2 separate regions of the Homo sapiens genome follow, and region 2 is linked to region 1. Evidence: fine-mapped expression QTL. A gene starts in region 1. The other region holds a variant in brackets. All regions are shown on one strand. Distances are from middle to middle. Region 1 holds the start of RNF7 (ring finger protein 7). Region 2 has its middle 48 kb from the start of RNF7.

The links. PIP is the estimated chance that this variant, and not a neighbour inherited with it, causes the effect.
Region 2: its variant is the best candidate, but not a certain one, in a credible set for the expression of RNF7 in whole blood (GTEx, PIP 0.89).

The regions. Positions count from the first base shown.
Region 1 is chr3:141,736,135-141,740,527 of GRCh38, forward strand. It overlaps RNF7 (ring finger protein 7), which reads left to right and starts at 2,164. Exons shown (of 3, transcript NM_014245.5): 1 at 2,164-2,382. The coding sequence starts at 2,208. RefSeq lists enhancers at 1,707-1,756, 1,797-1,846, 1,957-2,636, 2,197-2,436, 2,637-3,315 and silencers at 1,937-2,196, 2,457-2,636.
Region 2 is chr3:141,688,534-141,692,926 of GRCh38, forward strand. It overlaps the pseudogene LRRC78P. Among named protein-coding and RNA genes, the nearest start is that of RNF7, 48 kb to the right of the region's middle. The variant C/T (reference allele first, on the strand shown) is at 2,011.

The sequences.
Region 1 (4,393 bases):
GCTTTCCTTTCTCCCCATGCATGCTTGCTTGTTGCACTGAACTCTGGCGCATCACTCATTCCTGTTCTTTTTGTCAGGAGAAAAAGTTCTCCTGACATGCAGTGTGTCAAAACTGTACTCATCTCCTCCACCTGCCTTCCCACTTCCCGCCCCTATGCTCCCTCCTGGCTTCTATTTTAAATTTCATTGCAGCAGACACCTCTCTCCAGATTTCATGCCTCAGCAAGGGCACATACCATTCCTCCAGCGAAACCATTCTTTTCCTTTTCACCATTTCATCCTTTTGACTTTCAAACTTCTCACCAACTGGGTGCGTTTTATCCTCCTCTGGTGCCAGCCTTCCTTCTTTGTTAGATACCTAGCATTTACAGCCATCTCTAGGCAGATGTGTGGTCGTTCAGTAAGAAGAGAACACATGTTTTGTGTGCTCACTCCAATGGGTGTCTGGCTTATAAAGTAGGTGTGGTCCAATTCCTGTCTGCTGCCACCATTGTGCCCTGCTCTGGCCAACAGCTCAGAGAGGTTTGCTCTCTCCACTGGCCCTGAAGACCTCCCATGTTCCCCCAGTTCAAACTTCACCTCTCTCATGAGGCTTTCCCTCACTGCATCCTCTACCTCTCTCATGAGGCTTTCCCTCACTGCATCCTCTACTCTCTCATGAGGCTTTCCCTCACTGCATCCTCTACCTCTCTCATGAGGCTTTCCCTCACTGCATCCTGTACCCTCACAGCCCTTAACACACCACTCAACAAATACGCATTTGCATCTAACCAAATGTGACCCTGTGTCCATATTTATGTTTCTGTATATTAATGCATTCTTGTTTCCCCTGCCAGGCTCCATTAGTCTGGTTAGCTTTTGCCCAGGTATCAGGAAATGAGGGGATGGGGAGAGGCTCAGAATCCAAACTTGACAGAGTAGCTGTCCACCACTAGGTGATGGTGGGGTCAGGCATCTCCTTAGGCTGGCTGTGCTTCTGTTTTCTTTTCAATGGAGATACCGGCTTTCTTGGAAACACATGTGATGGTGGGCTAGCCGTAGAAGCACTACTATAATAACGATGTGATCTTTGTCATTTCACTTCTTCAGACCTCATTAGTCCTACATATAAAAAGAGGAAGTTAAACTAGCTCAAATGTACTGAGCAGAAGGAATGGAGACTGTGCAGCTGAGGGAGCGGGGCCTGAAAAATAAGTGTGGGTTGTGTCGCCACACACCGGGACTCCTGGGATCCCGACCTCTTTTAGCGGTCAAAAGAGGGCAAACTAGTTGCCTAACAATATTTAGAGCTATTTCTCTCTTTTCACTCTCATTCTACGAGTGTACACCGGAGTTTCTAGCAACTACATGGTATGTGAAGTCATCCCTCTAATGATAACCTGTAATGAGGTTACTACTGTGATTTTTAATGAATACATTTTAAAATGTTTTAATTTCTTCAAAAGCAAACATTAATCTCTACATATGTGTGTATACATATACAGGAAATGTATGTATATATGAATATACATATATTCATTGTATATGTGTATATATATTCATACATAATATGTGTGTGTGTATATATATATATATTTACACATTTCCTACATAAATAAAAGTTCTTTAAGGTCCTAATAATTTTTAAGTGAAAAGGAGTCCTGGGACCAAAAAGTTTTGAGAATCACTGAACCAGATTTCTAGATCTTTAAGATCATTTATTCACTCAACAAATAATTGTGCCTCCTGTGGCCAGGCATTTTGCAGATACGGAGGATAATGTGGTGATAGCAACATGTTTCCTGCTCTGATAGAGTTTTACATTTGGGAGGGAAGAGACAAACGAATAAATTAACAAGATAATTTCTGAGAGCAGTAGGTTTAATGAAGCCGTAAAGCAGGACACATATCCCTGCACAATCTGTGCGCCTGCTCAGACGTAACACCCCGCAGCGCAGCAGGCAGATTCAGCGGCGTCGCCCCATAAGGGCCCGAGCCCTCTCAGTTGGCCTAGGACGGCGAGGGCGGGGCCTGCCCGCCCCCCTGGCGCTGGCGTCAGGTGACGTCACTGTGCCGCGCCAGCCAATCGTGGGCAGCCGGGGTCTAGGCACCACGGTGGCTGGCGGCCTGCGGGCGGCGCTGTGGCCCGTCGGGCGGCTCCACAGAGCCGCCCTAGCCTTCCGCCTTCCCCAAGCCAACGTCTCCGCCGTCGGCTCCGCGGCGCCGCCATGGCCGACGTGGAAGACGGAGAGGAAACCTGCGCCCTGGCCTCTCACTCCGGGAGCTCAGGCTCCAAGTCGGGAGGCGACAAGATGTTCTCCCTCAAGAAGTGGAACGCGGTGGCCATGTGGAGCTGGGACGTGGAGTGCGATACGTGCGCCATCTGCAGGGTCCAGGTGATGGGTAAGCGCTGCACGCGAGTCCAGGGCCGCCCTGCGGCCTCCGGGAGCCGACCTCGGGGTTGGGAAGGGACGGGCGTCCGTCAGAAGCCTCGGAAAGTGCCCTGCCTGGGAGAGTGGGTGGAGGTCGCCCTGCCCCGGCGCCGGAGGAACGCGGAGCCACGCTCCTGCTGCGGCTCCTGAGGGCTGCGGCCGCCGCCTGGGGCTGCGGGGTTGTGCAACAGGCGCCCTGCGCCGGGTGGTTGGTGTTCTAGGGAGAGAGACGGGCAATAAACGGAGTTAAACAAGGTAATTTCAGGTAGTGATGGGTGTGACCAAGAAAGTAAAACCGGGTGATTGTTGGGAACTAGCAGGAAACACTTCGGTTTGTGTGTCCAGCCCCAGCCCCACCTCTAAAAGCTCAACACAAGGTGGTCAGGGTAAAGGCCGTGATTCAGCAGTGAACTTTAATAGTCTTGGTCACCACCAAAGTGATGCTCCAGAGTCATCTTCCACAAAACGACACCCTTAGTTCTCCTCGAGGGACGCAGGAAAGTGTTCATAGCCATTGCATTTCCGGATTAGCTTACCGCCGCTCTTCGAATGGCTTTTAAATCTGGATTGATTTAAGACGGGTCAGATAGCACTAGCGTGGCTTGAAGGGAACAGTGTGGTTCAAGAATATCTAAGTTTCATGGAAGCTGAAGAATTGTAAGCCCTTTTTTCAGAAACGTAAAACTTCACCTCCATCACACCCCCCTCTCCATATTGGATGCCATTTCCTGGAGAAGATACTGTGCTGCTCTGAGTCATGCCTTTGTGGAGAACCCTCTTACAAATATGTCTTCTTTCTGTGATATTTTGAGTTAAAATATTAGACCAAGTGAAACTTTTCAGAACAGCTTAATCTTGTTATATTTTATATGGTTCTAAGAACTCAGACCACTTTGAAAAGCAGGTGCTATTTAAATGCAAGTTGTATTTTCAGATAGGGCATTTAAAATTACTATGAGACCCTCTTCAGTGGAATTCTTTATTGAGGGTAGTTAAAGAAAACGGACATTTCTATCGTTTGAAAACTGTGACTTGTCTTGAAAAATGAGAGAATTGGAGAACATACAGAGAATTGCTCACCTTAAGGGGGGTGAGACTGTAAACATACCAGAATCAAGAGATTTCGCAGTTTATGCTCTTTTGTCTTTTATTCCTAAGGGCTTGTTTCAAAGAGGATTTACAACAATTGGATTCAGATATTTTTATCTTTCTCTTTTGAAAGACCTTGATATTAGACATGACCCACTTATTTTACATGGATCACTTGAGCCCAGGAGTTTGAGACCAGCCTAGGCAACATCGCAGGACCCTGTCTGTACAATTAAAAATTAAAATAAAAAGCTGACCAGGCATGGTGGCCTCCAGCTACTCTGGAGGCTGAGGTGGGAGGATCCCTTGAGCCCAGGAGGTCGAGGCTACAGTGAGCCTTGTTCCTGCCACTGCCACTGCCACTATACTCCAGCTTGGGTGACAGAATGAGACCCTGTCTCAGCAACAAACAAACAAAACATATGAGGCTTTAAAAGTATCTAGTTTATTTGCCAGCAATACAGCTGCCCCTACCCCCACTTAGGAATCATAATTTCTAGTTTGGGAAGCATTTTTAACTGATCCAGGAGACTCTTTTTTTTTTTTTTTAAGACAAGTTTCGCTAAACATTTTATCTCCTAAATAAATTTCCTTTAGTTTAAAGGAAACTAAGCTTTCACTTAGTTCCTTTCCAGTTTAAAAATAATGTTCCCAAAGGGTATTTTCAAAAGATTTGTCTCCCAAAAAGCTATTTCCTCCCCAAAGGAAAAACATTTAAAGAGTAAGTGGAAATGTATAACCTGAAATAATGATTGAAACTTTGCAACAAATAAACTTTACTGAGAGATTTTAATGTAGGTCAAAGTATAGACTATAAATGACACATTTCATCATAAACTTTCTAATTATAGCAAGTATTCTGCTACTACAGGATCAGTCTTGCATATTTACAA
Region 2 (4,393 bases), 48 kb before region 1:
ATGCCTGTAATCCCTGCACTTTGGGAGGCTGAGGCAAGCGGATCACCTGAGGCCGGGAGTTCAAGACCAGCCTGATCAACGTGGAGAAACCCCAACTCTACTAAAAGTATAAAATTAGCTGGGTGTGGTGGCTCATGCCTGTAATCCCAGCTACTTGGGAGGCTGAGGCAGGAGAATCACTTGAACCTGGGAGGCAGAGGTTGTGGTGAGCCAAGATCGTGCCATTGCACTCCAGCCTGGGCAACAAGAGCGAAACTCCGTCTCAAAAAAAAAAAAAAAAAAAGTGACGTTGAAAATCTTAGATACTAACCTAAAAATGTGCAAGATGGTCCATAAACTTTTTAATATTCCTCTATGTTGTTATGGGAACAAAAATGTTTGAGACCACTGCTTTTTGAGGACCAAATGTTTGATCTCCTGTTCTGTGAGCTACTCCCAGGCCTCTCGGTAACTCTTCCTTCTGGCCAGAGTCAGCCACAGGGGCTTTCAGTTGATGACAACCAAAGGGGCCCAAATGCCTTAGGACCCAATGACAAGTTTGTTTTCTTAATCATAATTACTTGTTATAGTGTAGAAATACAATTTTATTTGCTGTTTTTTGTTTTGTTTTGGTTGGTTTGAGATGGAGTCTCACTTTGTCACCCAAGCTGGAGTGCAGTTGGGCGATCTCGGCTCACTGCAATCTCCACCTCCTGGGTTCAAGCTATTCTCTGGCCTCAGCTTCCCAAGTAGCTGGGATTATAGGCATAAGCCACCATGCCCGGCTAATTTTTATATTTTTTTAGTAGAGGTGGGCTTTCGCCATGTTGGCCAGGCTGATCTCAAACTCCTGACCTCAAATGATCCACCTGTTTTGGCCTCCCAAAGTGCTGGGATCACAGGCTTGAGCTACTGTGCCTGGCCTAAAATACTTTTTAATACAAGATTTTGCAGAATTAGTAGAATTGAAATATAAGTAATATGTCAATTTTTACATTATTCCCTTTTCTTCTTGTGGGCAGGAAAGGGTGCGGGTGGGCAGGGAGGCCTGTTGGGTGGCTGTTGACCTCTAGGAGAGAGCTGTCTACCCAGGTGAGACAAGGGCAATAGCGGGGAAGGCAGCGAGAAGCAGTCAGACTCTGCATTATCCCACTTCCTAACGGATTGGATGTAGGGTACAAGAGAAAGGAAGAGTCCAGAATGACTCCAGAGTGATATGTTCTAATATGTTGCTTTAAACATGCCAAAAAAGAGTTCCTCCCTGCTACATTCTTACTAATTCCAGGGCTTTGGAGTCACTTTTATAGACGGCAGCTTTGAAACATAAAGAAGAAGCAACACGAGGCTGGCAGGATGGTTCTTGGAGCTCTACTTGGTTGCATGTTCACCCTGAGACTTTAAGGAAAGAAACACAAAAACCACAGGACCCAGCTGGGTGCAGTGGCTCACACCAGTAATCCCAGCACTTTAGGAGGCCAAGGCAGGCAGATCACTTGAGGTCAGGAGTTTGAGACCAGCCCGGCCAACATGATGAAACCCCGTCTCTACTAAAAATACAAAAAATTAGCCGAGTGGGGTGGTGCACACCTGTAATTCCAGCTACTCTGGAGGTTAAGGTGGGAGGATCACTTGAACCCAGGAGGCGAGGGTGCAGTGAGCCGAGATGGTGCCATTGCACTCCAGCCTGGGCGACAGGGCAAGACTCCATCTCAAAAAAAAAAAAAAAAAAAAAAACCACAGGACTGAACTGAAGTGAATGTGATCTTGACAAGCGGCCAGATCATTCTCTTTTGTGAGAAATATCTCTGCCTAAAGTGAACATAAAATAAAGGCCATAACCAACATCAAGGTGTGTCAGAAACCCATTCATTTGACTTTGAACAGGCTACTTTTTAAAAAGTCTTTTTTTTTTCAACCAGCCAAACAGAGAGGAAGTTCAACTATGAACCAGATTACAAAATCGTCTGAAGCTGTAACAGTGAAAACTACTTCAGGGAAGAAAAAGAGAAAAAAAGGTATTTTTTCTGTTGT[C/T]GTTTCAACTGTTCCTTCCACTTCCCTCATCTTCTAAATCACTTCCTTCTTTCATGAGCTGTGTGTTCCACTACTAAGTAGTTGCACCAAACAGAGAAAAACTCAAGTGGAGAAAAAAGAACACTCAATGTCTTGTGACTTCATGTAAACCAAACACCAAATGGCTTTGCCACGGCCATCAGAGGAATTCATCTTTGACATATTCAACACTCCAAAAAAAAAAAAAGAGTAATGGGGCCTCAGCTGGTTTGGGAATATCTCTGCAATGAACAGCCTGTGGAATCTGATCAATTCAGCTCACAGACTTCCATCCTATGATTTTTACTTAGAATCAGCAACTGTGTAATCTAGAAGGAATTTGAAGAAATCAACAACTCCGTAACCTCTGAACTGGGTTAGACTATATGAGAAGCTATCTAAGTATTAAAGATGGGCAGCTAAGCATTAGGGACCCAGATTCTATCCCTGACACTTCCACTAATGTCTGGCTCTCAGAATCCTCTTCTGCAAAATGAGAACTTTTCACTCACAGGATCCTAAATTCCACCCCAGCTTTACCATTTTGAAATTCTAAAGAGACAACGCAAGATTATCACTGCGTGGTCATGAACACAGTCTTTGGGAAGCTCCTTGTGGAGGCTAATCTAAATTTGTGTTGTTCTGTTTTAGTCCGTTTCATGTTTTTCTCTACCATGAGTCTGGGGGAGGGCAACTGGCCCTTATAATGAAGCTTGTCACCTTTTGGCTTTCTCTTCTTCAATATTCATCTGTTTTTCTGCAGTCGTTTTCTGTCCTGGAAATTATCCTTATAACTCCTCCATGAAATATCATTGAATTAGAAAATTACAAATTCTTATGATCCAAAATGTCAAATGAAAATGTAAAGTAAGAAAATTCATCAGACTGGCCAGGTGTGGTGGCTCAAGCCTATAATCCCAGCACTTTGGGAGGCCGAAGCAGGCAGATAACCTGAGGTCAGGAGTTCGAGACCAGCTTGGCCAACATGGTGAAACCCCTTCTCTACTAAAAAAAATACAAAAAAAATTAGCTGGGCATAGTGGCAGGTGCCTGTAATCCCAGTGACTCAGGAGGCTGAGGTAGGAGAATCGCTTGAACCCAGGAGGGAGAGGTTGCAGTGAGCCAAGATTGCACCATTGCACTCCAGCCTGGATGACAAGAGCAAAACTCTATCTCAAAAAAAAAAAAAAAGAAAATTCATCAGACTGTCTCTGTTATCTGATATTGGCTAATAAAGGCTATTAATATAGCTTTTCCACTGGGCAGAGCTAGTTTTGGAAAGTCTATTAAAGGAAGGAAAAAAAAGAATCAAGTGAGGTTATCATTTGTTTTTGACAGTGTCTTAGTCAGTTTGGGCTGCTAGAATAGAATACAATAAAGTGAGTGGCTCAAATAGCAAACATTTATTCCCCACAGTTCTGCAGGCTGAGAAGTCCAAGATGAAGGCACTAGAGGATTCAATGTCTGGAGAGGGCTGCTTCATAGATGGCCATTTTTTTCCAGTGTTCTCTCATGGTGGGAAGAAGGCTAGAGAGCTCCCTGGGATCTCTTTCCTAAAAGTACTGTGAACCCAGGAAATCTGAGACAGGTCTCAGTTAATTTAGAAAGTTTATTTTGCCAACACTTGGGTAGGTAGTGGAAAATTACAGTCAAAGGGGGTTGTTCTCTTGTGGGCAAGGGCGAGGGTCACAAGGTGCTCAGTTGGGGAGCTTCTGAGCCAGGAGTAGGAATTTCACAAGGTAATGTCATCAGTTACAGCAGGAACCGGCCATTTTCACTTCTTAGAAGGAGCATTTGTCATATAGAATGATTGGTGATGGCCTGGATACAGTTTTGTATGAATTGAGAAACTAAACGGAAGACACAAGGTCCAAATAAGAGAGGGAGAAAAACAGGTATTAAAGGATTAAGAATTGGGAGGACCCAGGACATTCAATTAGAGAGTGCCCAAGGGGGTTCAGCATAATTACTTGCTTGGTTGGCGAGTTTTTGGGCTTTATCCTTCAGTTTTTTATGTTGTCATATATCAGGCCAGATTGATTTAGGTAAAAACAACACTCTTCATTTACAAATATGCAGCGTCCTCCTTTTTCAGCAGTGAGTAAGTCGAGGCCTATTCCTGTCTTCTTATATTCATAATAAAAAAAACAAAACAAAATAGTATTGAAGTGCTGGTGTCATGAGGGGAACAGGAAGCTGTTTGGTCCTATTTGCAAATTGAATTTTGTGAGTAAGGAAAAGTAGTGTGCATGTGCCTGTCCAATTAGCAGGTAAACACATGTAGGTGGAGGATCCACAGAGGAAGAAGAGACCTTTTGTAAGGCAAAACTGGAAATGTAAAGTGAAAAGATGAGGAGAAAAATTG